Linked DNA regions of Homo sapiens. The protein of the gene in region 4 purifies or fractionates together with the protein of the main gene of each other region. This does not show direct contact. Each region holds a gene or a part of one and is shown on either strand. Other genes may lie near its edges. The genes, in order: TUFT1, MOCS1, MXRA7 and GUCY2D.

The links.
Region 1: the proteins of GUCY2D (region 4) and TUFT1 purify together in Homo sapiens (affinity purification with mass spectrometry; one large-scale study listed by BioGRID and IntAct). This does not show direct contact.
Region 2: the proteins of GUCY2D (region 4) and MOCS1 purify together in Homo sapiens (affinity purification with mass spectrometry; one large-scale study listed by BioGRID and IntAct). This does not show direct contact.
Region 3: the proteins of GUCY2D (region 4) and MXRA7 purify together in Homo sapiens (affinity purification with mass spectrometry; one large-scale study listed by BioGRID and IntAct). This does not show direct contact.

Annotation. Positions count from the first base shown.
Region 1 is NC_000001.11:151,544,867-151,552,433, reverse strand, and holds part of TUFT1 (tuftelin), read right to left. Parts: intron 6,639-7,567; exon of another isoform or gene 6,543-6,638; intron 1-6,542. UniProt on the Homo sapiens protein: Involved in the structural organization of the epidermis. Involved in the mineralization and structural organization of enamel.
Region 2 is NC_000006.12:39,922,648-39,930,214, forward strand, and holds part of MOCS1 (molybdenum cofactor biosynthesis protein 1), read right to left. Parts: intron 5,070-7,567; exon of another isoform or gene 4,932-5,069; coding exon of another isoform or gene 4,809-4,931; coding exon 4,682-4,808; intron 3,199-4,681; coding exon 3,031-3,198; intron 1-3,030. UniProt on the Homo sapiens protein: Isoform MOCS1A and isoform MOCS1B probably form a complex that catalyzes the conversion of 5'-GTP to cyclic pyranopterin monophosphate (cPMP).
Region 3 is NC_000017.11:76,680,870-76,688,436, forward strand, and holds part of MXRA7 (matrix-remodeling-associated protein 7), read right to left. Parts: coding exon of another isoform or gene 7,308-7,567; coding exon 7,244-7,307; intron 4,297-7,243; coding exon 4,203-4,296; intron 3,059-4,202; coding exon of another isoform or gene 3,025-3,058; exon of another isoform or gene 2,978-3,024; intron 11-2,977; coding exon 1-10.
Region 4 is NC_000017.11:8,008,148-8,014,873, reverse strand, and holds part of GUCY2D (retinal guanylyl cyclase 1 precursor), read right to left. Parts: intron 5,369-6,726; coding exon 5,288-5,368; intron 2,731-5,287; coding exon 2,524-2,730; intron 2,425-2,523; coding exon 2,268-2,424; intron 1,772-2,267; coding exon 1,622-1,771; intron 995-1,621; coding exon 846-994; intron 274-845; coding exon 110-273; intron 16-109; coding exon 1-15. UniProt on the Homo sapiens protein: Catalyzes the synthesis of cyclic GMP (cGMP) in rods and cones of photoreceptors. Plays an essential role in phototransduction, by mediating cGMP replenishment.

The DNA.
Region 1 (7,567 bases), on a different chromosome or scaffold from region 4:
CCGCGCCCGGGCCTTTTTCCCTATTTTCTTTTGTCAGTGATTTTCAGCAAAACTTCCGAGGGTGAAGGAGAGGCTTTCCCTTTGCCCTGGCACATACATATGTTTCCCATAAAAGCATGTATACTAGAAAGTTCACAGTAGCATTTTTCAAAATAGCCTCAAACCAGAAATTACCCACATGTTCAGCAAGAGTAGAATAAATTGTAATATATTCATACAATGGAACTTTGTACAACAATGAAAAAGAATGAAGCACTGTACATGCAACATCAGTAAATCTCACAAAGATGTTAAGCAAAAGAATCCAGACACAAAAGTATACTGTATGATTCCACTTATATAAAAAGCACAAAAATAAGCAAAACTAATATAATTTGCACTTTAGAAGTCAGGATAGTGGTTACCCTTGAGGTGGAGGTAGGTGGTAATTAGAAGGGGACATGAGGGGGCTTCTGCAGTGCCCGTAATGATTTGTTTCTTGATCTGGGTGCTGCTCACAGGAATGTGTCTAGTTTGTGAAAATTACTTGACTGGACATTTGTGATGTACATATTTTTCTGTATATATGTTACTATTAAATGTTTTTAAAAACAAAAAGTCAAAAACTCCTTATTATGGTATTAGAGTCCCCTTATGATCAGGACCATCACAGTTTATACCACATAAAATGTTTTGACTCCCTCCAGTACCCCAATGTACCCTGCACTCTATCCCCAACTTTTTCCTGATCCAATTGTAGAAGGCATCCAAAGCCAAGTCTGTTTCTGCTAACGGGTCTTCCAGTGCAATACGTGCTCCCACCTCCCCAGAGGTGCGCATGTTGCTTTCTCCGACCGGGGTATCCTCTCCTCCCTTGCCTCCTTGGAGAATTCCTGCTCAGCCTTCAAGGTATCTCCTCTCTGAGGGTCCGACCCTTATCCCAGCACTCCTCCCTCAGTCAGAGCACCTACTGCAACCTACATATCCTGCACTTTAACAAGGAGCCCATTCTTTTGTAACAATTCATTCATCTCCCCCGAGAAAATCATAAGCTCCTTGAAGACATGGATAGCTTATTTAGTACAATGGCTGGCCTAGAATAGGTTCTCAAAAAAATATGTTGTTGCATGAGTTCCAGGTGATATGTTCAGGGATTTTCCCAATTCCCTTTGAGAAACTCCAGCTCTTCAGTTTAGAGAAGCAGTATGGAATACTAGAAAAAGCAGACACAGAAAAGTAGCAGAGGAAGGTCAAGGAAAAACTGAGCAAAGACTAAGAAGGCAACTCTAAAAAGAAATAACAAGTGGCTAATGGAATAGGAAAGATGCTCAACCTCACCAGTAAAGGAAAAGGCAAATTAAAATGCTAATGAGCTATTTTGGGGGGATTTCATTACACTTATAGAAATATAAAGATAAGACATGTAGAAATATGTTCACAGTAGCATTGCATGCAATGGCAAAATACCAGAAACCACCCAGATGGCCCACTGACAAGAAAACAAATTTTTAAATTATATATTATTTTTGAGACAGGGTCTCACTGTGTTACCCAGGCGGGAGTGCAGTGGCATGATCATGCCTCACTGCAGCCTTGACCTCCCAGGCTCAATTGATCCTCTCATCTCAGCTTCCTAAGCAGCTGGACTACAGGCGTGCACCACCGTGCCTGGCTAATTAGAAAATGAATGAATAAACCCTGACATATTAGTACAATGAACTACTATTCAGCTGTGAAAATAAATGAACTATGAAACATGCATTGACATGAATAAATCTCAAAATAAGTGTTAAGTGAAAAAGCAAGCTGGGGCCAGGTGTGGTGGCTCACGCCTGTAATCCCAGCACTTTGGAAGGCCGAGGCAGGCAGATCACTTGAGGTCTGGAGTTTGAGACCAACCTGGTCAACATGGTGAAACCCCGTCTCCACTGAAAATATAAAAATTAGCTGGGCCTGGTGGTGCATGCTTGTAATCCCAGCTACTCGGGAAACTGAGGTGGGAGAATCGCTTAAACCCAAGGGGCGGAGGCTGCAGTGAGCCAAGATCACGCCATTGCACTCCAGCCTGGGTGACAGAGTGAGACTCTGTCTCAAAAAAACAAACAAACGAAAAAACTATTTGGGCCAGGCACAGTGGCTCACGCCTATAATCCCAGAACTTTGGGAGGCCAAAGCAGGTGGATCACCAGAGGTCAGGAGTTCAAGGCCAGCCTGGCCAACATGGTGAAACCCCGTCTCTACTAAAAATACAAAACACTGGCCAGGTGTGGTGGTGGGCACCTGTAATCCCAGTTGCCTGGGAGGCTGAGGCAGGAGAATCGCTTGAACCTGGGAGGCAGAGGCCCCAGGGAGATAAGGAGAGAGGTGCAGTGAGCCCTGTGACACTCCTATAATAAAACATATAAAGAGAAGGAAAGAAAAAGTACTAAACTTGGCTAGGCATGTTGGCTCACGCCTGTAATCCCAGCACTTTGGGAGGCCCAGGAGGGCAGATCACCTGAGTCCAGGAGTTTGAGACCAGCCTGGGCAACATAATGAGACCCTGTCTCTACAAAAAGTACAAAAATTAGCCTGGTGTGGTGGTGCACACCTGCAGTCCCAGCTACTAGGGAAGCTGAGGTGAGAGGATCAATTGAGCTCATAAGGTCAAGGCGGCAGTGAGCCAAGACTGTGCCATGCACTCCAACCCAGGTGACAGAGCGAGACTCTGTTTCAAAACAAAGTACTAAACTTGAAGTCAGAGGCAGGATGTCTGAGTCCTGATTGATGACCATTAATCCTTGAGCAAATCACTTAATCTCTCTGGGCCTCAGTTTTCTGTCTGTAAAATGAGGGTGATAATTTCACAACCGACATTTTAGGAAGAGTAGATAGATGTGCAAGAATGATGTAAAAGTGATTTGCAAACCATACATCTCTTCACAAGGGTGAAGCAGCATTACTTTCCCAAGTAGCTCTGGAAAGTCTGCAAGGGAAGAGGGTGGATGAGGTAAATTGTCTAATGGAGCTGATGAAAAACTTAGGGCTCTCTCTGGCACCTCATCCTCCAGAACTGGAGAATGCATCTTAGTCAGCAAGGCCACAGACCTCGGCCTGCACCCCCAACCCAGAGTCAAGGAGCAAATCCTGGGGCTCCTCTCTGCCTGGTGCACTTAGTTGTTTTCTAGAGCAGGCTTGCATTTCCTCAGGACTATGAGCAGGCTCCAGGGAGCTTTAGGAACACCCCAAAAATATCCGGCAGGGGGGTCTCTACTGGGTACTCTAAAAGGCAAGATGAGAAGTGGAGCCTTCTTCTCTAGGGAAAAAGGAGCAGTACTAATCACAAGGTAAGCAGCCTCTAACCTCATAAACATTTTTGGGAGAAGCCCAGCTACCTCCAAATTATAGGCAGCCTCACCACTCTGTTCAAACAAATCTCCAACCCTGACTCACTCCTCAAAGCAGGGAGGGGGTAAACACATAGCTGAGGGGTTAGAGATCAAGACGCCACAGCAGAGATAAGGAGATAAACAGGGAGGCCCCAGGGAAATAAGGAGAGAGGTGCAGAGTTCTCACACCACAGGCTCATGTGAATAGGGAAAAGCCTGCGTTCCCCCAGCTCTCACTCCCCAGGTTTTACAGGGGTCACTAGGACTGGGTAGGAGTCAAGTGTAAGGTTCTTTCTAAGAGGAAGTAAAGGAAGTGGAGATTGCCCCTGAGCTGGAAACCAGCAACCTTAATTCATCTTCACCCTGTATCCCACTCTTCCCTCACTTTGCCCCTCAATCCCACCCACTTTCCCACCCCAAGTGTACATGGCCTCTCAAGCTGCTGGAGGAGCAGTCACTTCAGTTTCCCCACTTTGAAAAATGGGAGGCTGGGCACGGAGGCTCAAGCCTGTAATCCCAGCACTTTGGGAGGCCAAGGCAGGCGAATCACGAGGTTAAGAGATTGAGATCATCCTGGCCAACAGGATGAAACCCCATCTCTACTAAAAATACAAAAATTAGCTGGGCGTGGTGGCGCACGCCTGTAGCTCCAGCTACTTGGGAGGCTGAGGCAGGAGAATCACTTGAACCTGGGAGGTGGAGGCTGCAGTGAGCCAAGATTGGGCCACTGTACTCCAGCCTGGTGACAGAGCAAGACTCCGTCTCAAAAAAAAAAAAAAAAGAAAAGAAAAAGAAAAAAGAAAAGTAGGAATAGCCAGCCCCTTGTAACAATGGCACCCAAGTGATCAGGATGAAGGAAGTCCCATAAACTCAAAGAACAGAGCCGGATGGGATAGGTGGGTACCTACCCTCTCTACCCTCTCCTTGAGTGAGGCTCGCACCCGACTCAGCTCATCAGTCTCAGGTACATGGTCCTGCCTTCTGCAGTGCTGCCTAGGCCAGAGATGGCCCTTTGTGGAGTATGACACAAAGAATCACTCCCTTTCTTCCTCCCCAGATTAGCCAACAAAACAGGTGTTTGATTTTTATGTGGCTGCCTACCCAGAGGCATGGGCTGGACAGGCACTATGTAGAGGGCTCACCAGGGTTACTGTGAGGTGAAATGAGAAAAAGGATTTGAGGTGGCACCCTACATGGGGCAGCCTTTCTCATTACTTGGAGCCCTAACAAAGGAAAACACTAGGGCCTAGCAGTGACAGTGTGTCTGTAGAGGGAAGTGAGCTCCTGAACCAACTCTGAAGGAGACACCCACTTGCTAAGCCAGTCTCACTCTAGGACACCTGCCTAGCGACCAGCAAACCTGGAATGAAAGGGCAAGTTCCTCAGTGCCCCCTCTGCATCAAAGGGAGTGGCTCTGCCCTCTCTAGTCTCTGACTACCTGCTTAGTGATTTTTGCTTCTGTGCTCCCAGACCCAAGAAAACCACGTCTCTTTTCTTCCTTCATCGACTCATCCCCTTCTTACCCTATATTGTCTCCTCCACTTCCTGCCTCTGCTGGCCAGGCTTAAATCTGGGCCACCAGCCTTCCTGGCACATACCTATTTCCGCAACTGAACCTTCCCAACCCCTAGAAAACAAAGGTATTTCACAAGCCTCTGCACCTTGACCCAAAGAGGCATGCACCATAATTACTAGCAGGCAAGGAAGCTCATCCCACCTCTCTGAGCACACGTGTCTGGAACTGAAACCATCTGGGTGCACGCCCCCCTCCACCCTGGAGAACTATGGGCAAATGTTAGTGCCAAATGCCTGATGATGAGGTAACTCTCCTCGCTCAGAGGAGATCCCTCCTTCTCTGGCAAAGCCCAGCATTCCCCAAATTCCTGGCAGCCTTGGTGACATCAGAAAAATGCAGTGCTCCTGAAAGTAAGAACCTGGCAATAAATGGGAGAGATGGGATGGTGTGAGGAGAAATTTATGGGCTGAGTTTAGGACAAGTTTCATGAGTAGAAGGAACAGGCAGCCACCAAACTTGAAAGGCTCCTCTGCCCAGCAGTTTTTCCCCACACTCAGATGTCACAGAACCAGGACTTCCACATTTTAGAATACATTCAGTCCTCTGGAGTAAGCAGCAATGGCTACAGATGAATCCTCCTTTAAAATGCAAATATTCTGACCCAGCAATCCCACTCCTAGGTATTCCTCTCCAAGAGAAATGAAAATATATTTCCACACAAAAACTTGTACACCAAAGTTCGTAGCAGCATTATAAATGATAGCCAAAAAGTAGAAAGAACCCAAATGTCCACCAACATTTATCCATGACGAACACAGTTGTAATACATCTAAATAATGGAATATTATTCAGCCATAAAAAGGAATGAAGTACTGATTCACATTACAACATGGATGAACCTTGAAAACATCATTCTAATAAAAGATGCCAGTCACAAAGGATCACATACCGATGATTACATTTATATTAAATATCCACAATAGGTAAATCCATAGAGAAAAAAAGTAGACTGGTGGCTGCCTAGGGCTGAGAGAGATTGGGGGGAAATGGGGAGTGACTGCTAATGGGTCAGGATTTCTTTATAAGGTAAGGAAATGTTCTAAAATTGATTTATTGATGATTGCACAACTCTGTGAATGTACTAAAAACCACTGAGTTACATACTTTAAATGGGGTATATGAATTATATCTCAATAAAGCTGTTCATAAAAAATTATATGAAGCTCATGGTAAGGCTTCAATAAATCACAATTCTAATTTAAAAAATAAAAGAGAGTGAGGCTCTGGAAAGACTTGGCATTAAACTACTTGAGCTTCTGAGGTCCTAAAGGAATGTCACCTATTCCACAGTAAAGACAAGTCTTCAGATTGCAGCTGATAAAAAAATTCCAAGTCCACCCGGGTGTTGGAGAACCTCTCTGGCCAAGACAAATCCAAAAAAAGAAAAAGAAAAAGAGAGAGAGGATGAAAAAAATGCAAATAGTTCCCAATTAATGTAGATAAATTTTAAAATGCATTAAAGTAATGGTAAAGACAATAAAAAGATGCTGTAGAAAAAAAAAAAAAAGAAAAAAATGCAAATATTCGAAAGAAAGATAAAACTGATATATTACTTAAAGAAACCAGAGCAGCAGGGGACACCAGCTGCCTTGGTCATGAGGTCTAAAAAAGAAGAGGAAAGATGCCCAGAGAGAGATGCCAAAATATGAACCCTGACCCATCACCAGTCTAAGACCAGTACTGGCTGAGTCAGGACTAGCAAAGGTTACTCAGGTCTTCACCCTGGGTCTATCTGTAGGCCTTCCTCTCACCCCTGGGACTCTCCACTGGTTGAGGGACCTGGATCATCAAGGAAACGAGAAAGAAACAGGAATAAACAAAAGTCAGCATAATGAGGAGGAGCAAACCTTGCCCAAACCAGAGAGTTCCCAGACTCTTCCTCCATCCCTTGGCTGGTTGCTTATAGGAGGTTAAAACAGTCTAGTCTAAGCCAGTAGAAATAGAAAATAATAGCTAACCTCTGAGTACTTACCACATGCCAGGCACTGTGCTTCATATTTTATGTGTATTATCTAATTTAATCCTCACAACTACCTTATGAGAAGGGTGCAATTATTATCCCAGTTTTACAAGTGAGAAAACTAAGAATGAAGAAATTAAGTAATTTGCCTAAGTGAGCTTGGGCAAAGCAGACATCAAAGCCTGATTAGAGCCCACCTTAGTCAGATTCCCAGAGCCATGCTCTTTTTTTTGTTTGTTTGAGACGGAGTTTCACTCTTGTTGCCCAGGCTGGAGTGCAATGGCGTGATCTCGGCTCACTGCAACCGCCACCTCCTGGGTACATATGATTCTCCTGCCTCAGTCTCCCAAGTAGCTGGGATTATAGGTGCGCACCACCACACCTGGCTAATTTTGTATTTTTAGTAGAGATGGGGTTTTGCCATGTTGGTCAGGCTGGTCTCGAACTCCTGATCTCAGGTGATCCACCTGCCTCAGCCTCCCAAAGTGCTGGGATTACAGACGTGAGCCACTGCACTCAGCCCAGAGCCATGCTCTTGACCACAATGCTATTAACAGAAACTAGTTTATTACATTACCAAAAATTGTAATACAATTACACTGGGAGGATGGGAAGGAAGCATGTCAGGGGTGGGAGTATAGATTTTCCTATAATTCCTACAACAGAAGTCAATAGATGTCTAAA
Region 2 (7,567 bases), on a different chromosome or scaffold from region 4:
GCTGGAGAGGCAAGGGGTTGGCAGAGGGAGCCAGAGAGAGCTGAGGGGCCCAAACCCTTCCCGTGGGGTGTTCTGCAGCACCTCTCAAAGGCTGACAGAGCTTCAGACATGGACCTGAGGTGAACGGGACCTCAGGCTCGGCAGAAACTGTAACCTGCAATCCTTTTGCTCTGCCTCCAGGTGGGGGCCCCTCAAAACCCTCACGTGAGAGGGTAGGCACAAGTGTTCGTGAACATCCTGGCCCTGACTTCTGTTCTCTCTCTTCCCCCATCCCTCCTTCCTCCACCAGCACCCATCTGCCCTGCCCTTCAAGGCTGCTTTGCTCTGAAGCAGCTCCTCTGGGGAAGATCAGAGGCTAGCCCCTGAGGGATGTCAGAGTGCTCACAGGCACAGCGCCACAGGAAGTGAGGGGGTGCAGCCACCATTCTTTTTGAAGCACTGGGAGAGGGGCAAGGGGAGGTGTTTCACCCACCCCCACCACCTGGGAGGCAGGAGGTAAATCCTCAGAAGCAGGTCACTGCAAGCGGGGCCTTGTCCTAACTAGCATCCATGTGGCGATCACCCCTTGCCCATCCCATTCCATCAGCCAGGGCCAATAACCACAGAATATCACAGCAGAAAACATCCTTAAAGTGGCTCATCCACAGCTGAGGAAACTGAGGCCCTCGGTGGGGAAGGAACCTGCACAAGTTCACCCAGCCAGAGAGTGGCAGAATGGGGACAGAGCTACCAACTTTCCTGGCTCCCATTCTTCCCTCTCTGCATGCTGGGGTTTCCCGGGAGAGCCCCGAGTCCTCATACCAGTGCTCAGCCATCCTGTACCTCCCTGACCAGTGAGTGATCCTCATCCCCTCTGCTCTCTCACAGGTCCTGGCACAAGGCGGCCCATGCCCGCGGGTGCCAGGGAGAGGAAGTGGCCTGGATGAGGGGGCTGGGCCTGGCAAGCAGCTGGTTCAGCAGGTTCAGCCCTTTCCTGGCAGCCAGCCTGCCTTTTAGCCCTGAGGAGCTGCCTGGAACATGGGGTCAGCTTGCCTGGGCCAGCTCAGCCAGCACAGGATGACAGAGGTTCCCAGGCCAAGTGACCAGTAGGAGCTGAAGGGAGCTGGCCATGGGGCAGGAGGGAGAAGAGGGCTGTCAGGGGGACCTGGGCCCCTCCTTGGGACTCTCACAGCACCTAGGCTCCCCTTATACAGCAGCTGCTTCCTCCAGTGGGCCACAGGTCCTCAACAGCAGGGCTGGTGCTCATTCATCTTCGTGTGCTCAGCACAGTAGGAGGCATGCAAGAGGGCACTCCAGCGAACAATTACTGAGCTAGAGAGCTGAGGGGCGGGGGGTCCTGTCCAAAGCAGCTGGACGGGGCAGCAATCAAGAACATGGAACCTCATAGCCCCGATTTCATCACCTATAATTACATGAGCAAAGGTCTCTTTCCTGATCTTGGGGTTTAGAAGCTCATGGCAAGAGGCCCTTTAGAGCTACCTTTACAGAGCACTTGCCATAGGCTGGGCATTTCATTCTCATTCCCTCCTCAGGTCAACCTTATAAGGTAGGTACTATCACTGCCTCAAGGCTTAGAACAGATTTTAAAAGTTGCCCAAGGTACGCTTCTTGTAAGAGGCACAGTGGAGACTCAGATAGGAATATGCCGTACTGCAGAGACTACTCTGACCCAGTCTCCATTCATTCAGCGAATTTCAGGGAGCATCAACCACGTGTCAGGCACGGTACTGGATGCCAAAAACAAAACCTGCTCCAGCAACCTGAGAGCTTTCACGCCAGCGAATGCAGGAGACAGACAATTAAAGAAACCAAACACACAACCCAAACACACAGTGCCAGGATGAGATAAATGCTATGAAGCAAAACAAAGTAGGGTAAGTGAGTAGGGCAGGGGTTGCCACACTTTTTCTGTGGAAGTCCAGATAGTAAATATTTTCTACTTGGCTGGCCAGCTTTGCAACACAGTCTTTGTCAACACCATGCAACTCTGCCAAAGCAGCCATGGGCAATATGTAAATGAATGGGCATGGCTATATTCCAATAAAACTCCATTAATAGACACTGAACATATAGGATTTTATAATTTTCGTGTGGTAGAAAATGTTATTATTTTATTTTTTTCCCCATTATTTAGGAGCATAAAAACCATGGCAGGATGCAGTGGCTCACGCCTGTAATCTCAGCACTTTGGGAGGCCGAGGTGTGTGGATCACTTGAGGTCAGGGTTTCGAGACCAGCTTAGCCAACATGGTGAAACCCCGTCTCTGCTAAAAACACAAAAAATTAGCCAGGCATAGCGGTGTGTGCCTGTAAGCCCAGCTACTCTGGAGGCTGAGGAAGGAGAGTCACTTGAACCTGGGAGGTGGAGGTTGCAGTGAGCCGAGATCCTGCCACTGCACTCTAGCCTAGGTGACAGAGCGAGACTCTATCTCAAAAACAAACAAACAAACAAACAACACTCAGTTTGCACGTTAGACAAAAACACATGTCGGCCCAGATTTGGCTGCTATAACTTGCCAATTTCTGGGAAAGAGTGGCTGGTGTGAGTACATGAGGACGCACTTTAGACAGGATGGTTGAGGAAGGCCTTGCTGAGAAGATGACATGTGAACAGAGACCTGAATGAGGTCGAGGAGAGTGCCCTGAGCTCCTAGCAAAGGGAACAGCACATGTCAAGGCCCGGTCATGTGAATGGGAAGGAGGGGAAAGGTGGAGAAGCCTGCAAGGGTTTTGGAGGTCAGCAAGAGCCAGGTCACGTGGGCCTCCTGGAGGACCTTGGTCTCAATGTGACAGCAAGCTACTGAGGTCTGGCATTTGCGAGCTTCCTGACCTTGGGCAAGTTATCCAACCTAAGCCTCATTTTCTCATCAAAAATGGAAATAATAATAGCACCTGTCTCAGCAGGTGTTGTAGGACCAAGAGAGTGTCATGTGCTAAATGAATGTCAGCTGCCACTGTTAACATCGGCATCAGTGTCCAGCCGGATGAGGCAGCGCTGGGAGAAGTGGCGATGACTTTCGTCCAACTCACCCACAATGTCCACCACGTCCGGCCGGATAAGCGGCTCTCCACCTGTGAGCCGGATCTTGTCGATGCCTTCCTTCACAAAGAGCCGGGCGAGGGTCAGGATCTCCTCTGTGGTCAGCAGGTTGGCTTTGGGGGTCAGCGGGACCCCCTCCTCGGGCATGCAGTACTGACCTGAGGGAAGGATGAATGGGAATGTGGAGGGAGGAAAGAGGCACGGCCACAGCCCCGTGATGCCTCCACTCCCCAACTCTCCATCAGGCCAAAGGCTTCTCAAACCCATCTGGATGTGAGCGGAGACCTCACTAAACCTGAGGTGGAAAAACCCCAGGCCAGCATCTCCCCAGGCCTCACCTTTCTCATTTCTGAAACGTTAACACCTTTCCCTATGCCCAACACACACAATCTGGCCATAACATCCCTCAGTGGGAGGCCAAGGGCATGGGTTAGAGATGAAGTAGGCTGAGGGCAGAGCCTGGCCTGACTTCCTGGGCTGAGGGCACCTGGGCAGGGGCGTTCCTCCTGGCATTGTCACCCATCCTCCTGCATTTCACTGGCTATGGCAAACAGGTAGCTTTCTCTCTGTGTGTCATGGGGTGAGAGAGAGGTACTCTCTGGCCTGGCAAAAGCTGCCGTCCTCTGTAGCTACAAGCATTCTCAAATCCACTCTATCTATTTCAGGTTATCATCAGACCCATTTTATATGTTGGAAAACTGAGATACTACTTGTTCATGGTGAGGTATCAGAATGGGGTAAATGAGGTGAGCAGCGGCAGGCTGTGGAAGGGCCACCATCCTCCACCATCACTTCCTGTGGTGCAGTTTCATTAAGGTTTGGGTCAAGATCTGTTAGAGAGTCATGAAGGCAAATTACTCAGTTGGGTCCAGAACCAGTCCTTTGAGACTGAAGAGAATAAGTAAGACTACCAGAATGTAAAGCATATAGTACATCTTGTTTGGTTAAAAAGTTACTAAACATACATGCATGCATTTATTGGGCCATGAAGTAACTTTATTTCTTATCGTGAGGTATAGTGAAAGAAAGTGGGGAGGAAAAGAAGGGGGGGAAGGGGGGAAGGGGAGGGGAAAGTGGGGAGAGGCAGAAGGAAGGAACAGAGGGGAAGGAAGATCAACTTTGGAAGTCCCTCCAGCAGTGGCTACAGATCCAGAGCACTCTTTGGGAGGATTATGAAATGAGGCCTCTTTGTTATTAGCCTAGCCCCAGCTGATTTGTCACGGGACTGGGGCACCTCCAGAGTCAGCAGTGCTGGCATGGGCATGGCTGTCTACTTCAAATGTTTATAATGTCCACCACCCCACCCCTGGCCATGTCCTGGACTTCGGGAACTACAGGGAAACAGGAGGAAGGACCCCTGAAGAATGAGAGGTCCAGGATCCAATCTTAATTCTAAATCCAACTGCATTTATGTTTTCAAATCTAATTCCAAGTAGGACACAGCTTCTATAATCATACAACTCAGCCTTGACCCCTATCTTGCCCCTGAAGCCCACCTGGCCTGGTAAGCAAGGGGTAGCAGGTGAAGAAGTTAGAAAGCAGAACTGGAGGACACAGGAGGATTTCCAGGCACAGGGAAATTTCAAGGGCTGCTTCAGCAGATGGACACCAGCCCAGAGAGGGCCCAGGAAGGTGACTCACATCTGAGGTTGCACTTCTCTGTGAGGGAGATCCGCAGGTAGCTGTGCTGCCGGCCGAAGCTGTCTGTGAGGAAGGCGGAGAAGGGGGCCGCATGCTCCCGCAGGAACTGCCTCCGCCTGGACACCTCCTGCGAGGACAGACCAGGGAGGAAGCATGGGCCCCTGCTACCGGGCTGGGAAGAGGCACAAGGAGAACCGCCTGCCCCCTCCCTTACTCTGACATCTGTGCGGAGCTTCCAACTCTTCCACATGTTTGGGCTCTGCAATGTTGGGGAAGCTGGGATTGTCCCTCTCGTTGAGAAATCAGCTTGATGGGAAGGACCCACCCCTTAAGTATTCAGCTTGGGGGTCGGGGGCGGATGGTGATCTCTACTGGGAAGATTTCTGGCTGGGCAGCAAGGTGGAGGCAAGGGTGTGGGGAAATCTATTAGCCCTTATTCTTCACTCTAGCCAGTGCCAAAAAAAGGATTGTGCACCCATGGTCTCGGGCATAAATGAGAAGAGACTGCTGAAGGCCACAAGCAAGGCCCAAACCCGTCCTGCAGAGAGAAAGGAGGGAGCCGGCTTCACTCTTTCCCATGTACAAGTCTGATCTAGTCTGATCCGTCTCCCCCTGACCTATCGGTCCTTGGAGAGTACAACCTGGGTCCCGACAGATGCTGATGAGATAATTGCTCCAAGGAAGTAGCATTTACCAAGCATCTTAAAGTTTCCAAAGAACGTTCTGTTTCATTCCCACACCCACTCCACAAGGGATTATTATAACTAAGGCTTGGATGGGGTCCAAGAACACCCTCGGCAGAAGCAGGATTCAAATCCAGGTCTTCTGATTCCAGGTTCTTTTTTTTTTTTTTTGAGATGGAGTCTCGCTCTTTTGCCCAGGCTGGAGTGCAGTAGCGCGATCTTGGCTCACTGCAAACTCCACCTCCCAGATTCATGCCATTCTCCTGCCTCAGTCTCCCAAGTAGCTGGGACTACAGGCACCCGCCACTGCACCCGGCTAATTTTTTGTATCTTTAGTAGAGACGGGGTTTCGCTGTGTTAGCCAGGATGGTCTCGATCTCCTGACCTCGTGATCCACCTGCCTTGGCCCCCCAAAGTGCTGGGATTACAGGCATGAGCCACCACACCCGACCCTGATTCCAGGTTCTAAATTACTCCCTTCTATCACAGAGAGAGTCCAAGAAGATAGGGAGGATGACAACTAGGGTGGGTAGAAGTCACTTCTCTAGAATATTTCAGACAAAAAAATCACGACCCTGGAAGTCATGCATGAGATCTACAGACAAGGTTCTGGAATGGGAATAAGAAACCCTGGTTTCTGCAGTAGGTATGACCTGGTACACTGTGAAAGTCCCTTAACTTCTCCAGGCCTGCTTTCCCAGTTGTAAAATAAGAATACAGCTACAGGCTAAGGTTGTCTTGCTAGGAGTAAAGACAGGGGTGGAGTGGTAGTGGTGGTATCAGAAGATGGTAGGTGAACACTTAAAATTATGATGAAGAACAGAAGGTCTCAGGCCCTCCAAAGGTCTAGCGCAACTATGCCTACAATTAGGAGGAAGAAGCATTTGCTTCAGTAAGTTCCTCAGCTCCAGCTGCACATTAGAACCATCTGGAGAACTTTAAAAAAACATTCCAGTGGAGACCAACTAAATCTGGATCTCTGAATCTGTTACGTTTTCAATCTCTCCAGGTAATTCTCATCGGCAGCCCTTGACTGGGTCAAGAGCCACTGAGTGGCTCAAAGATAAGAGACATGAGAGTATGTGTGAAGCTGCTCTTGATTTTCTGGGCCCATAAAACATTCCTCACTCTACCCACCGCGGGAGAATTTCCCACCTCCTCTGAGAAGCCCTGCTCACCATCCTGTGGGGAGTAAGCAGCAGTCACTTCTCTAACTGCCGTCTGCTATAATCACAACAGTCACTTCCTCCCTCCCTGCGGTATGATGGAGAAAACTCAAACTCAACCCATTGCCTTTCCACAGATAGCCTCAGGGTTGGGGCGGGGAGCACTCCATAATCAAGAATCCCATCAGCCACCGGAGTCCAGATGAGATACCTGGGAATCTGGATGTATTGCAGTGCTGTGCCCTCTTTTTCATCAACAGCTATTTGCAATTCAGTCATGTTAGTCACCCTAGATTCTGCCTCTTCACTTGCCAAGATACCCCCCCTCAACCCAGTCTTGACATGATGGGGGGATGGGGTGGCTGGATGGGGGAGGAGTCAAAATACATCAAAGAATTGGAAGTTGAGAGGACCAAGGAGCATTATTCAGCAGAAACCTGAGAGCAAGCAGTGTGATGGAGCAATCAAGAATGGAATTAGGGGCCGGGTGTGGTGGTTCACGCCTGGAATCCCAGCACTTTGGGAGGCCGAGGAGGGCAGATCATTTGAGGCCAGGAGTGTGAGACTAGCCTGGGCAACATGGCAAAACCCCGTCTCTACTAAAAAATACAAAAGTTAGCTGGCTGTGGTGGCGCGAGTCTGTAATCCCAGCTACTCGGGAGGCTGAGGCAAGAGAATCGCTTGAACCCAGAAGGCAGATGTGGCAGTCAGCCAAGATCGCACCACTGTACTCCAGCCTGGGCAACAGAGCGAGATTCTCTCAAAAAAAAAAAAAAAAAAAAAAATGGAATTTGGTGCTTTTGTTCTGGCAATGGGAGAGGCTGGTCAGATTTCACTTTTAAGAACTTCTGTGACCTTGTCTAGACTTATGCAGACTGCACCACCCGTTCTGAACCCAGCCTCCTAAACACACACACTCTCACCCTGCCAGCAATGCAAACTCATTACTCAGATATTAACGAGCCCCATTCCTGCATCTTCTCTCCTCTAACACTGCATGCCCTACTTTCATTCTTCTACTTTTTTCCCTGTCCCTT
Region 3 (7,567 bases), about 69 Mb from region 4:
TTCTTCAGTTCTGTAAAGAGAAATGGGGAGAAAAAGATAATTTATTTTACTCATTCCATCCTGCACCATGGGCAAGGAAAGGGGGAAATGGGGACGAGGAAGGAGAATGTTTGGAATTGCAGAAGCTGCGCTAGACTCTGGTTTCTCAAACCACTGCTGATTTGCTTCTCATCGCTTGCAGCAAGACAGTCTGTGCCGCCAAGCCGGCCAGAGCTTGCAGAGCTCCCCTTGATCCCGCACAGAACCTGGCAGCCCACAGACCCTGTTCAGCCTCTGCAGGGTACTTAAGGAAGGAACTTGGGCATTTGAGTTGCCAAGGGCCTTTCTGATCTTGGGTTGTGTGGTTGTGCTGACAATATTCCTATCACCCTAGATAATTTCCCATTCCCGCTGGCTGAGTTTTGTCCCCTCGGGGGATACTGGCACCCTAGGATGCACGCTTCCAGATGGAGCCAACTGCATGCCCGTCTTTTATGAACCAAGACACACTGCCAGCCCTGGGACCACTGAGAACCCAGCAGGTCTGATCTTGTCCCTCTGACGCCCTCTCCTGGTGGTCACAGTCAGCACGCATTTCCAGCCTGAGCTGGAAATTCACACTGGCAGGTCTATTGTCTGTAGTTTCTTGCATACATCAGATGGAAGAACCAGAACTACCCCACAGCTGGGGTTCCTTGGCCTCCTCCTCCCCTTCCCTGTTTTACCACACTAGCACCTTCCTCTAGAGTCATGTCCATTTCCAGAGGAGTCAAGACAGCCCTGCAGACCTCAAATGGAGGGGTGGGTCCTGATCTATCAGAGCCAGCCCAGTCTATAGCCTGGGTTCATTTTCCCTCTGAGACCACAAGGTGGGAAGAAGTGATGGAGAGGAGCTGACAGCCGCGCCTGTTCTTTCTCCTGCCAAGCTGTGAAGCCAGCCAAGCCCTGCCAGCTTCCCTAGCTCTGGGGGAGGAGGAGGAGGCCTCTTGCTCAGGGGAGCTGTCACCAGCCTGCAAGCCCACTGTCCTAGCCACACTGTGAAACTGGAGGTGGCACTTCCCACAGCAGCTTCAGCGGAACCCAGGGACGCCACCAGAGGCATGAAGTGTGTGAAACTCCGGCCCGAGGGGAGAGCTGAGGAGGCGGGCAGACAGTGGCAAGCAGGATCTTAAGCAGCAGCTGCCTCTGGATTTACAGACCTGACCGCTTTCTGGCCCCAGGCGGAAGGAATTTGATCTGTGAGTAGTTCAAGGATGAGACTGACCACTTCAGCATGTCGGGGAACTAATTGGGGGCCTTCTGCTTCCAGTCCCACTTCCTAATTGTCATGAGAGCCTGTGAACTGAAGCTCCTGGGGAGTGCTGGAACTGGCAACCACTAAAGCTTCAGGTTCTAGATGCAGATCTGTTGGCTGAGCTAGTAAATTTAAAGTTAGGGGACGTGCAGCTTGTAGCTGCAACTCGACTGGACCCTGAGAGCTGGGAAAGGCATCAGAGGCATGGAGGCCGGGAGGGTGGAACCTGACAGGCGGAGAGAGAGCACCCTGCTAGCTGGCCTGTGGTTTTAGTGGTTTGATAACAACAGGCATGTTATTTTTCATACTGATGATTCTAGGGCGGTTCCCTGGACTTGGCTGGGACCAGAACTGTCTCACAGCTGCCAGCGCTCCCCACCCCCATGAGAACCATCGTGCTGAAGATGAAGAGCCAAAGCCAAACTGACCAGCCTCTGCAACCCCAAGCATCACCGTGTGAGGACAGCGTGATGTGGAGCCGCGGAGACCCCACGCAGTGCTGCGAGGGGCAACCACATGCAGGGGGGCAGAGGTGTGGGGGAGCAAGCAGATGCCACCGGCATGCCTAGGAGCCACAGGGAGCATGCGGGCTGGGCAGTGATGGGAATGAACGTGAACTCCAGTCCTGCCCCAAGAAGTCCTCCGGCCCCTCCTTCTCAATTCAGGGCACAAAGTGGTAACTGCAGCATGCAGAGGAGTCGAGGAGTCTTCCCTCGTCCCAGGAGCAGCACCTCGGGCACAGTCTCGGTCCCACAGAACAGCCAAGTGTGGGTTGGTGGTCTAGAGACCTCCAAAGATCCAGTGGGGGAAGGATGGGCAGCAGAGGGTCTACTCTCTGAAAATAAGGGGAAGGGATTTTCCCTCCCCACTGCCAAGGTCCCAGCTCTGGACGTGGGTGGCAGTGGCAGTTTCACCCCCAGCCGGAGGCCTGGTCTTTCTTGTTCTAAGAGGCCCTCCAGATCCATCTGCCTGAGCAGCCTCTGTCCCCAGGGACCTTCAAGGGCTGGCAGTTGTGTCCAGCCCCCTCTAGCCTCTGTCCAGGGACTGCAACCTTTTTCTGCAAACAGCCAGATACTACTTAGATTTGGGGGGCTGTGTGGTCTCTGCTGCAGTGACTCACCTCGGCCACTGCGGCACAAAGAGGCACAGACCACAGGAAAATGGGTGAGTGTTGCTACTACTGCCACGCTGGATTGGCACAGGCAGGTGGGGGATCAGATGTGGCCCGGCCGTTGTCTGCTAACCCTTGCCCTGATCCTAAGAACCTGCCTGTCTCACAGCTTGGGAGCACGGACCGTTCTCAGAGTATCTGCTGTGCACTGTGCAGAAGCTGCCTCATCTTCTCAGGGTGAGACCCAAGGCTGCAGGGTGACGACATCCACATTTCCGAAGCCTGAGGTCCCAGGGTGACAGTTCCCCCAGCCTTGCGAGGGGGCGCTAGCACCCCAACCTGCCGGCCCATTAGGCCCCCTCCAGGAACTCAGGGACTTAACTCCCCTCCAGGAACCTCTGCCCCCAGACGGGGCCTCTTCTGCCAGAGATTCCTCGTGCTTGAGAAGAATGAGAAGGGCTCAGGTGGGAAATGTATTAATCGGTTATGAAGGCGATGGAGGAGGGGAGGTTGAGGCCGCGTCAGTTGTTTGGGGGCACGTTAGCACGCAGTAGAAGGGGAGCACCACTAGTCTAAGAAATCAGTGTCCTTACCAAAAGGATTTGCAAGAATATTTGTGGCTCAGGACCTAAGGAACTTGCTACAGGGAAGTGAGGTCAGAGGTCAGCTCAATCCTGAAATATAAATGCAGCAAACCTGGTCATGCCAAGCGGCAGCATCCTCAGCACCTGAGGACTCGGGGCTCCTGCCAGGGCTCTTCCTCCTGGCTGTGCTTACACTGCCCGCCCCCCACCCACCCAGGGTGAAGAGCTTTCCTGCTGAGGGTCGAGAGCGCTGATGCCAGCAGCGGGAGGGGAGACAGGGCCTGTCACCGGCAGAGCAGCTGTGAGGTTAGAGGGCTGCCCGGCGGGTGGCTTGGCATGCAGCCATGAGAGGGCAGTTGAGTTCTGATTCCAAAATCATAAACCACCCCTCCTGCTCGGACCCTAGACCGCTGGTTTCTGCTGACAAGTAGGGGGTGATTCCCACAAGCTGCTCTGGGTCGCCAGGCTTGGAAAATGGCACAGCTACCACCTAGACTTCTGCTTTAACCAAAGGACTCCAGGCCACGCTGCAGAAGGGCAGCAGTGTGGGTGAGCACCAGGAGCCTGCTGCGCCTGGTGCAAAGGACTGTCCCTCTGCTGAGACCTCCCCAGCTGTCCCACTGTGCCCAGCGCACCCCTTCCCCGCCCAGCAGGATGGTGTGGAGGGAAAAGGTGGCGGGGTGCCCAGTGGCTGTGCAGGGGGTGTCCAAATGGGAAGGGGGAGCCAATTCCAACAACGAGAAGCCATAGCTGCACTGCCCGGAGCTACAAGGCGCTGCTGCAGGCGCCGGCCTGGGAGGCCGCTGAAGGATGAGCACCAAGAATCCGCTGTGTCCCGAAGGAGAAATGGAGAAATCAGCTCTGTTGGGGACTGTGTGTGTGAGTGACAGCCAGGTCTGCTCCAGGCTCTTTCCTGGCATCTCATTTCTTTAGATGGGGGCAGTGGGGTGTGGAGGGGGTGGGGGGGTGCAGTAAATGGGCTCTGTATCCCCCATCACCAGTGGCCTCCTTCTGGTCAGTGCCAGGGAGGGGTGCCAGGGGTGTGCGAGCCTGGCTGACCAGGGCAGGAAAGAACTCCTAAACTGGGAAGGTGGGGCGGTGGTTGGGCAGAGCGTGTAGGAGCCCCACCTCCTTTCTGGGCCCTTCTGCCAAGGGGCAGGAACATGAAGGGCTCAGAGGGGCACCCCCCTCCCCCAAGAGCCCGCCAGGCGCCAGCGAAGGGGCTGCAGCCTACCTCTGCTCCTCCTCCAGCTCCTCTTTGGTCATCATCTTCTTGTACTGGTTTCCCCTCAGCTTCCCGGGGCTGTATTTGAAGGAGAAGCCTTCTCCTGTGGAGGGGGGACCCAGTAAGTGCCAGGAGTGCTGTAGAGGCTGGCCCCACAAACCCCGGCCCCCTTTCCCTAGGTTTAAAAAGAAACACCTCAAGCAGAGGCCACATCTGGCTATCAGAGACATCTCACCCCAGCGCCTATACCCCCTCTCGTTCCATAGCTTTCCCTTAAATCCTACAACGAGACAGCCAGAGAGAAAGCAGTCCTACTCCTAGTCCACAGCTGTCTCCAGATGCCACATCCCTCCCAACATCTGCAGTGCTCTGCCTTGCCCTGGCCCTGCCCAGCAGGTCCTCTCGGCTACTGAGCTCAGAGGCGACAACTCCGGCAAGCAGAGCACAGCTCATCTTGGGACACACACCACGCCTGCCTGGGCTTGGGGAGGCTTGTGTCATCCCCCCACCCCCTGTGGCTATTGGAAATCTGAAAACACGCATCCAGGCAGCCCACAGTGGCCAGGCCAGGGATGCGGGATTTGCTGCAGCAGGTTTGACGTGTGTACCGCTGAAGAGGCAGAGCCCGATTTGCCAGTCCCCGAGGGGAGACCCCCCATTGCTGCCTGCAAAAAACGGACAGATCTCGAGGCCTGAAGAGGGCACATGGATGGGTAGGTGGTGGGCACAGAGGAAGCCAGGACCTGTGGCCTGGAGTGGACACAGGCTCCGGGCACATGAGCCACGGTGAGGAGAGAAAAGCTGAGCTTCCAGAGGGAAAAGCCCCATGGGGGAGCAACCTCTTGGTTCCTGAATCCAGCAGGTGTCGGGCAGAGCTGGCTGGCCTCTTATCGACCTCCACTAACTAAAGGACCCAGTGAGGGAGGCATAGAGAGATCCTCAGCTGCTATTCTGGAAGTGCTGCCCTCTCTGTCCCTCCATATCCTGTCCAGCAGCCCGAAAAGCCAGGCCCCTCCCCTCTAGCTTGCAGCCTTCATGCTACCGGATAGGCTGATGTGGACCGATGGGGAGGCGGGGGGGCTCTCAGGGTGAAAGGAAGAAGGTTCTAGATGCGAATTCAGAACCCAAACATCTGGTTGGGTGTGGTGGCTCATGCCTGTAATCCCAGCACCTTGGGAGGCCAAGGCAGGTGGATCACTTGAGGCCAGGAGTTCGAGACCAACCTGGCCAATGTGGCAAAACCCCGTCTCTACTAAAAATACAAAAAATTAGCCGGGCGTGGTGGCAGGCGCCTGTAATCCCAGCTACTCAGGAGGCTGAGGCAGGAGAATCGCTTGAACCCGGGAGGCAGAGGTTGCAGTGAGCCGAGATCGCGCCACTGTACTCCAGCCTGGGCAATAGAGTAAGATTCCAGTATCCCCCTACCCCCCAAAAAAAGAAAACATACAAAATCCTGCCTTGGTCCCAGTCTTAGGTTTCAATTTATGGGGCAAGTCTGATTAGTTTTGTTTTCTGAGCCAGACAGAACAAACGACTTGAAAAGGATTTCGCTCAGTCACATGCAGTGCACCAGGCAGCGCATCCAGTTTTGCTAGACCAGAATTCAACGTGACAGCCTCCGAGGGACGGGGGAGGTTTCTTCCTCCAGTCTCCTGTGAATTCACCTAGTCGCTCAGGGAAGTCATTTTAGCGACACTAATAATTAACCTCTGAGGCTGCCTCGTACTGCAGAGGGGCTGGAGGTGCTCACACATTCTTCCAACAGCTGGAGCCATAAACCTTTCCTTTCCCTGCCTTGCTAGAGATGGCAGGAGGCTAAGATGGCAGGAGGCGCTGGGGGTGGGGGATGTTCAGGAGCAGCGGTGCAGATAAGGGGGGAGGCTGGTGACAGTGCTGGGGGACTGTGCCCTCTGGCAGCTATGCCAGGGAGAGGGGTCTGCGAGCCTCTCTCCTTGTCCTTGCCAAAGGGCCTCCCTCCCGTGTCCCCAAGTCACTAACAGGATCCCTGCATCCCTTCAGCTGTCTCAGGCCACATGGCAGGGACAGATGCCAGGGCCATGGCTGCGGTGAGTCCCCAGTCCCCAAAAGCAGGGAGCAAGGGTCCTTCCTGGTAAGGGACTAATGTCCCCACCTGCAGCCCACCGCCTGCACCCAAGCTTCATTCTCCCCTCCTGCTTCAGGCTGTGCTGATGGAAACCAAGGCACTGCCTCAGGGGAAGCTCTGCACCCCAGCCCAGCCTGCCCGCAGGAGCTGGTTCCTACATTCCTGAAACCTTCTCTTTCCACTGCTCCTGCCAGCAGCCGACTTAACATCACAAAAGCAGACTTGCTTTTTTAAAATTATGAAATATTTCAAACATACAAAAATGCAGAAAGCACTAATCCTCCCTGTGCTTGCCACACAGAGCCAACAAACGCTGACATCTTGCATGTCTGCCTCCGCTTTCTTTTTTAGAGAAATAAGTGGATGGACCCAGCAGAAGCCACTCCATGTTTGGTTCCGCCTCTGTCTGTCCTGGCCGGGTCCGATCTGGCAGTGTCTCCCCTGTTCTCGGTCACTCCCTTTCTCCTCTCAGTCTCATGGCTGGGGCCTGTGGCCAGTCAGCCAGAGCTGCTTAGAAAGCAGGCGTGTGCCCTCCTGGGGCCTTCGTTCTGAAGAAGGCACGGGGGAGGCCGTGTGAGTGGTTTTCGTCTCAGTAAAATAGGTCAGAGATGTTTGGAGAGAATCGTGAAATGTACAGCGCGGTCACAAAAGGGGAGTTAGGAGGCAGCGCAGGACAGAGCCAGGCAGGGCGTGTAGTGTGTTCCCAAGAGGGGCCCCGGGATGGGAAAGCCAAGCCCCAAAGTGCAATGGGGGTGAGGGAGGGCTACAGGCAGGCCAGGGCAGGACATCCATGGCGCCAGACTCTACCTCTCATGCCCCACTCAGGCCACTGTCCCACCCCATCCCTCCCCTCGGCACTCGAACCCCAGCTCCTGTGATCCCCAGCAGGACACAGACCACCCCCGACACTGTCAGGCCCCCTCATGAGCGCAGAGGTCCCACTCACCGTCCTCCTCCTCAGGCCCTTCCGATGATGGCCCCTTCTCACCATCCAAGTCCTGCTCCTCTTCCTGCAAGACAAGGACAGGGTCAGTGCCCTTGGCACAGACTGGGTGATGGGAAGTGGTGGGGGGGCAGAAGGTAGGGGAGACAGAGGAGGCCCTCGAAGGTCCAGCCTGCCCACGCCCTGTGGCAGCGCCTGCCCTGTGGTCATGGTCAACCAGCAGGTGGGGGCTGTGTACAAACGATGGGCCAAAGTGACTCGGCTCACAAATGCTGAGCTGAGGCGTGTTCTTGACTGTGCACCCCAAGCCCTCGGCCTTGGCCTTTC
Region 4 (6,726 bases):
GCCTCAGCCACAGACCTAGGGATGGCAGGCAGTGAGGTCACCTGGGGGCCACTCTACCTGGCTGGGCTCCAGCTGCCCTCCCAGCCCACCCCTTCCCACTGGCACCCACGGAGGCAGCATCTGTGTAAGCAGCCGGTCTGTCTTCTGCTTTTCCAGCTCCAGCTCCTCCGTGCGCTCCCGGATCAGATCCTCCAGGTTACTAGAGTACTGCTCCAGCATCCGAAGCATCGAGTCAATGATGTTCGTCTTCCGGCCCTTGTTGATGTTCTTGAACTAGCAGTAGAAGGAAGCTGGTAAAGCTGCTGAAGACCTGGGTTGCCATGCCCTCTTTATGCCCCCCTCATGGGCCCTCTCATGGGGCTGTTCACTCTGAACCCCAACCCCGCTGCCACCATTCATCTACTATTCATCAAGCACCCCGGGGTGCTGGGCACTGTGTTTTCAGACACGATTAGGAGGCACGTGGGAAATGAGGGTTCCCAGAGGTCAGTTGATCTCAGCTAGTAATTGACAGGGCACTGGAGCCAGCCCAATCGTTGGGCTCCCAGGCCAAGGGTCTTTCTGTCACAGCAGGCCAAGCACATACTTGGTTCTCAATCAGTGTTATTTGAATTGAATTGAATATTCCTCCCACCCAGACAGAACTCTATCTCCCACTCCAAAAGCCTCCACAGCCCCCATTCCAATTCTGCCCCCAAACTCCGAGTCTTCAGGCTACTCCTTAGGAGGTAGCCTGGAAGGCCAGAGGTCCTGCCAGCCTGCCTGTCTGCAGCTGTCTCAGGTTGCTGACAAGCATCTGGGATCCCAGAGGCCAGCCCAGTCCTTGCCCACTCCCAGCCCCTGACCAGGTCGAAGGTGTGGTCCATGGAGGGCCGAAGTTCCGGCTGCTCTGCCCAGCACTGCTTCATCAGGAGGATACACTCGACAGGTGCCTGGTCCATGGACACCAAGGGCCGACACAGTGGAGGGGGGCTCCGCACCCTCTGCACCACTTCTGGAGGCATGAGGGGACAGTGAGGGGGAGTGCCCCCAGAACACAAAGGCTGCCTCTGACCCTGGCCTGACTGTTGAAGACCAAGATGTGGGAGGGGGTGCCTGGCAGGGGTTTCTTTACATCAGAGGTTCAGTGTGTGTGTGTGGAGGGAGAGTATAGTGTGGAAGGGGGTTGCTAGGAGGAACAAGAGGACCTCGAACTCTGGGGGTCAGTAAGAGGTGACATAGGCAAAGAAACTAACATATTGTATGTAAGACAAGTGAGGGATAGGTGATCAAGTAGTTTGCTCAGAGTCCTGTGCAGAAGGGATGCACCCACTCCCCCTCCCCTGCTCCTCCCAGGGACCCCTGAGAACAGAGAGGAGTCTGTTCTGTCAGTTGTGGAAACAGTTTGGTTCCAGCATCAAGAAAGAGGAAGCTGTTGTGGTCTGGGACCTAATGAACCACGCTCCCCACCCTGGCCATGCACGGCTTTCTGCACCCAGACCTGCAGATGCCAGCTTTAAGGGGGCCTCCGTATAATTGAGTTTCATCACTGGGCTTTGCTTTAGAGGAAAGAGTGAGGCTGGCTCTTTTCTAACTGCAGGGTGCCCCTGTGGGCCGAACTCCACGCACAGGGCAGCCTTACCCTCGGGAGTGAGCTCCAGCATGGCATAAGGGGCACTGCGGCACACTACTTCTTGCATGATGATGGCCAAGCTAAAGACGTCGCCGGCCAGCGTTCCCCGGCGCTCCAGGGCTGGGTCCCTAAGCAGCTCCGGGGCTGTCCACAGCTGGTCTGGGGATGGGGAAGGGGCTGAGGCGCCGCTGGGGAAAGACTCCCACCCTCACCAGAAAGCCCAGGTTGGCACCCAGACACCACCAACCCTGCAGCCTGAGACCGGTCTGAGACCCTGCAACCTGAGACCAGCCCTGCAACTATCTCTAGGAGCCATCTCAGAGAAAGCCTGGCAAATAGGCCTTGCCCTTCAGAAAAGGTGGTGCCCAGGGAAGGCTCCGTCTCTTGGGCACAAGCCCCACCCTCAGGCAAACTTGTAATCAGAGCAAACCCTGCTGCAGGCAGCTCAGGTACAAGTCCCGCCCCCAGCAGCCCCGTCTCCGAAGTCACAGAGCCCACCCTCTCAGAGGCCACAAGATCTTTTCTGTAGCAGGAATTGTGTCTGGTGGATGTGGGATGAAGAGAGTGCGAGGGCAGAGGTAGGGAGGAAGCGGGGGAGAAGCCCTTGAAATAATGGGGATCCCGGTGGATCCTCGTCTGCACAGGGGACTCTTACCCTCCGCTCTGGGAGGCTCCGGTAGCACCTTCTGTGCTTCCAGCAGTCTCCCGTGGCCGTGGTCAGTGATCTTGAGTACGAATCTGCCATCCACTATGCAGTTCCGTGACTTCAGCCGCCCATGAGCCACGCCTCGATGGTGCAGATACCTTATTCCCTTGGAATGGGTAGGGTAAGAGGCAGCCTCAGCCTGCTTGGTTCCCTTGCTCCCCATCCCTGCCCCCAGGACGTCACCCCACCACCCCCAGACACACACCTTGATAAGGTCCAGCAGGAGGGAGGACTTGAACATCCAGTCCAGCTTTATTTCTCTCTGAGCGAGGAGGTCCTGAAGAGAGCCCCGCGTGCAGTGCTCTGAGACCACAGCCAGGTTGCCCTCCCAGAGGGCCGCAGGGCCTTCTGCTCCCCGAGCCAGGAAAAGCCCCAGGTAGAGGGCCACGTTCTCATGCCGGAGCTCCTGGAGCTGAGAGGGGGAGAGTTGACTTGCATTTTCTGCCCAGGGCAATGTGGGGAAGGGGCTGTTAATCAAGATCTGTTTTTGAGTATCCAGACCCAGAAGATGAGATTTTTACAAATGGTGGATGAAATGGTTGATAAGGTATGTACGGGGGCTCTCTTCTACACATAGTCCTATTTTTGGAAAAAACAATATAGTCAAAGGCCACTGTTTGGATACTGAGTATGGTTTAGCCTAATGCTGTGAATGAAAAGACAACTTTGCATTGGTGATCAGGACCCAGGCAGGTTCGGATTTATTGATCATAAGCCTTTTTTTTTAGACACGAGGTCTCACTCTGTTGCCCAGACTGGAGTGCAGCGGCATGATCATAAATCACTGCTACCTTTCATTCCTTGGTTCAAGTGATCCTCCTACCTCAGCCTCCTGAATAGCTGGGACTACAGGCTTGTGCCACCATGCCTAGATAACATTTAAAATTTTTTTTCTGTAGAGATGGGAGCCTTGCTATGTTGCCCAGGCTGGTCTTGAACTCCTGGCTTCAAATGATCCTCCCACCTCAGCCTCCCAAAGTGCTGGGATTATAGGCCTGAGCCACCACACCTGGCCCCAGCCATAAAACTCTGAACTGCCTGGGTCTTAAGGGAAGCAGCTCATGAAGGAGAAGCTCCTGGAACCACCATCCTCTCCTGATTTAACAGCCTTTGCTGGGAGAGCCAGGGAGGAGCGGTGCCACTTTCTTTCTTTTCTTTTGTTTATGTATTTTTTTTTTAGACAGATTCTTACTCTGTCACCCAGGCTGGATTGCAGTCGTGCAATCTCGGGTCACTGCAACCTCCGCATCCTGAGCTCAAGCGATTCTCCCGTCTCAGCCTCCCGAATAGCTGGGATTACAGGTGTGTGCCATCATGCCTGGCTAATTTTTGTATTTTTAGTAGAGATGGGGTTTTGCTATGTTGGCCAGTCTGGTCTCGAACTCCTGACCTCAGGTGGTCCATCCACCTCAGCCTCCCAAAGTGCTGGGATTACAGGCGTGAGCCACGGTGCCCGGCCTGAAGCTGTGCCACTTTCAAAGGACACCAGAAATGGCGTGTGCCTGCAACCTGGCCGGGGGCTGCTCTGCTTGGCGTTACGTCATTGTGTCAGTCGGGTCTGAGACTCCCACCCTCCCTCAGTTAGGGAAGACAGGACTGACTGCTCTGCAGGACAGTGCCCTCACAATCGGGGCATGCTAGAAAAAAAGGTGGCTTAGCTGGCTGACTGGTGCCCTTTCTAGCTTTTCCCTCCACATGCCCAATAAGGGGATACTTTTCTTTCCTTTCCTTTTTTTTTTTTTTTTTTGAGACGGAATCTTGCTCTGTCGCCCAGGCTGAAGTGCAGTGCCGCGATCTCGGCTTACTGCAAGCTCCGCCTCCCGGGTTCACGCCATTCTTCTGCCTCAGCCTCCCACAGTAGCTGGGACTACAGGCGCCCGCCACCACACCCGGCTAATTTTTTTTGTATTTTTAGTAGAGACGGGGTTTCACCGTGTTAGCCAGGATGGTCTCGATCTCCTGACCTCGTGATCCGCCCGCCTCGGCCTCCCAAAGTGCTGGGATCACAGGTGTGAGCCACCGCGCCCAGATACTTTTCATTTTAAACACCTGGTATTAAATGGTGATCGAGTTCATTAATCCCCATACACATAGTCCACTTAAGTCACTGCATCTGTGACCAAGAGCTCCTGTAGAGGAATCAGGGAAGAAGGCCAGGCCCAGGCTGCATGGCATGGAGATAAAGGGAGACATTAAGGTTGTAAGGACCAGAATAAGCCATTTACAGCCTCCTTGCCAACTTTGCACTTCATTCAGAATGTCCAGGGCTATTCTGCACAAGTGGCCTGACAGAACCGGAAACTCATTTTTTATTTTCTATCATTAGATCAACAAACATTCACTGGGTCTCTCTAATGTTCCAGACACTGTGTTGGGTGCTTGATTACAATGGAGGGGAGTGAGGAGGCCCTCACTCAGCTTACAGTCCAGCGAGAGAGGCAGAAACAAGCAGGCAGACAGATGAACATACAATTGCACATTGCAACAAGATCAAAGGAAAGAACTAGTGGTGTGGCAGAGAATAATGAAAGCCTACTCCAGGGTGGAGGAAACATGTTTTTTTTTTTCTTTCTTAATTTTGACAGGGTCTTGCTCTGTCACCCAGGCTGGAGTGCAGTAGTATGATCACAGCCCACGGTAACCTCCAACTCCCAGGCTCAAATAATCCTCCCTCCTCACCCTCTGAAGAGTAGCTGGGACTACAGGCATGTAACGCCACACCCAGCTAATTTTAAAATTTTTGGAGAGATAGGGTTTCTTTATGTTGCCCAGGCTGGTCTTGAACTCCTGGCCTCAGGTGATCCTCCCTCACATCTGCCTCTCAAAGTGCCAGGATTACACGTATGAGCCACCACACTCAGCCAGAGGGGACACTTAACTGAGACCTACCTCTGTACCCAGCTGCAAAGAGAAGGCAAGGAGGGAGAAACCGATGGCCACCTAGGCCCCATCACAGGCCCAAGTCTCACCTTGGAGAAGGCCGTCTTGGTTGCTGGGCGGATAGCTATGTGCTGATCCCCTGGGAATTTCTTCAGCCAAACCCTGTCTCCCTGCAGCAAAGAGGATGGGGGTAGGGAACTCAGTCTCTTAAAATCCCACGATGGGGAGCCCTAGAACCCCTCCCCCTCATTTCCATTGGCTCACTGTCCCAGAATGCATCTTCCATGTGACAAAATGCATTGAACCAAGGGGTTTGATGTATGCCCATCCACTTCACAGCCATCTGGGAGAGGGCCCACCCCTGGATGACAGAGATTCTGAAGCCATGGATGGCTGTCCTCACCAACCCAGCTGTGCCCACCAATAGTCCTATTAAGTGCATTAATACAACCACAAGTGTCATCGACATCACAACCCTCATTACCATCCACTGCCATGAGAGAACATGTTCTGGGAGTAAAAAATCTGGGTAGATCAGGCTTTATTGAAAACTAACTGAACTATAGACAGCTCCCCTCCTGATGCTGGACCTCATCCTCAACTGTTGGCAGGGCCGGTTCACAGGCATGGGACCTGTGCAGTCACACAGGGCCTCGTGCTCCGAAGGGCCCAAGCTTGGTTCAATGACCTCCTGCCATCATCATGAATGAACGAGGAGCCCCTCATTTCTATCTTGCCCTGGATCTCGCTAATTATGCAGGTGGCCCTGTCTTGTTTATAAGGGATTTGGACTAGAAGGGAATTTAGAAGGGAATTGGGGTTTAGTACTGACCCCTAAGGAGCATTTGGAAATAAATGTGGGGAAAGTTTTAACTGTCACAAAAACTAGGAGCTGCATTAGTGGACAGGGCCAGAGACAAGAAACACTAAATATTCTTCAAGGCACAGAGTAGTCCCATACAATTTAGGACAATCTGCCCCAAATGACAATAGTGCCTCCTCTGAGAATTGGCCATGATGATCTCTAGGTGACATGATAGGAGCCTCTGCATTCCTTCCCATGACCTGAAGCCCAGGAGCTCTAAATTTCTACTCTCTTGATTTGCTCAGCACTCTCAGCTCTCTCTCAATCTGTTCTCATCATCTCCCCTCCACTTGACCGCATTCAGATTTACCAGCCCCAAAGTTAATGTCCTAATACTTTTTTGTGACTTTCTTTTCCCCCTCTAGGGGTTGCTATTCCTGAGTCTGGTCTGAATTGGGTGGAAATGCTGAGGGGCAGGGCCAGAGGCTCTGACCAGGCCGGAGATGGTCTCAGTGGCCACACCATGTTACCTGCTGGTCCCAGCATGCTCCCTGGCAGCTCCAGCCTCCAGTCTCTGGGTCACTGTGGTTAGCTTTTGAGGAGCCCTTACCCAGATAGTGGCTAGAGAAAAATCCTTGGGGAGGGAAGATTCCTAGGTGCTTCCCTTTGAGGGATCCATGACCTTTCCCTAGATCCTGTCTGGGCTCCCATCCCCCATCTCCT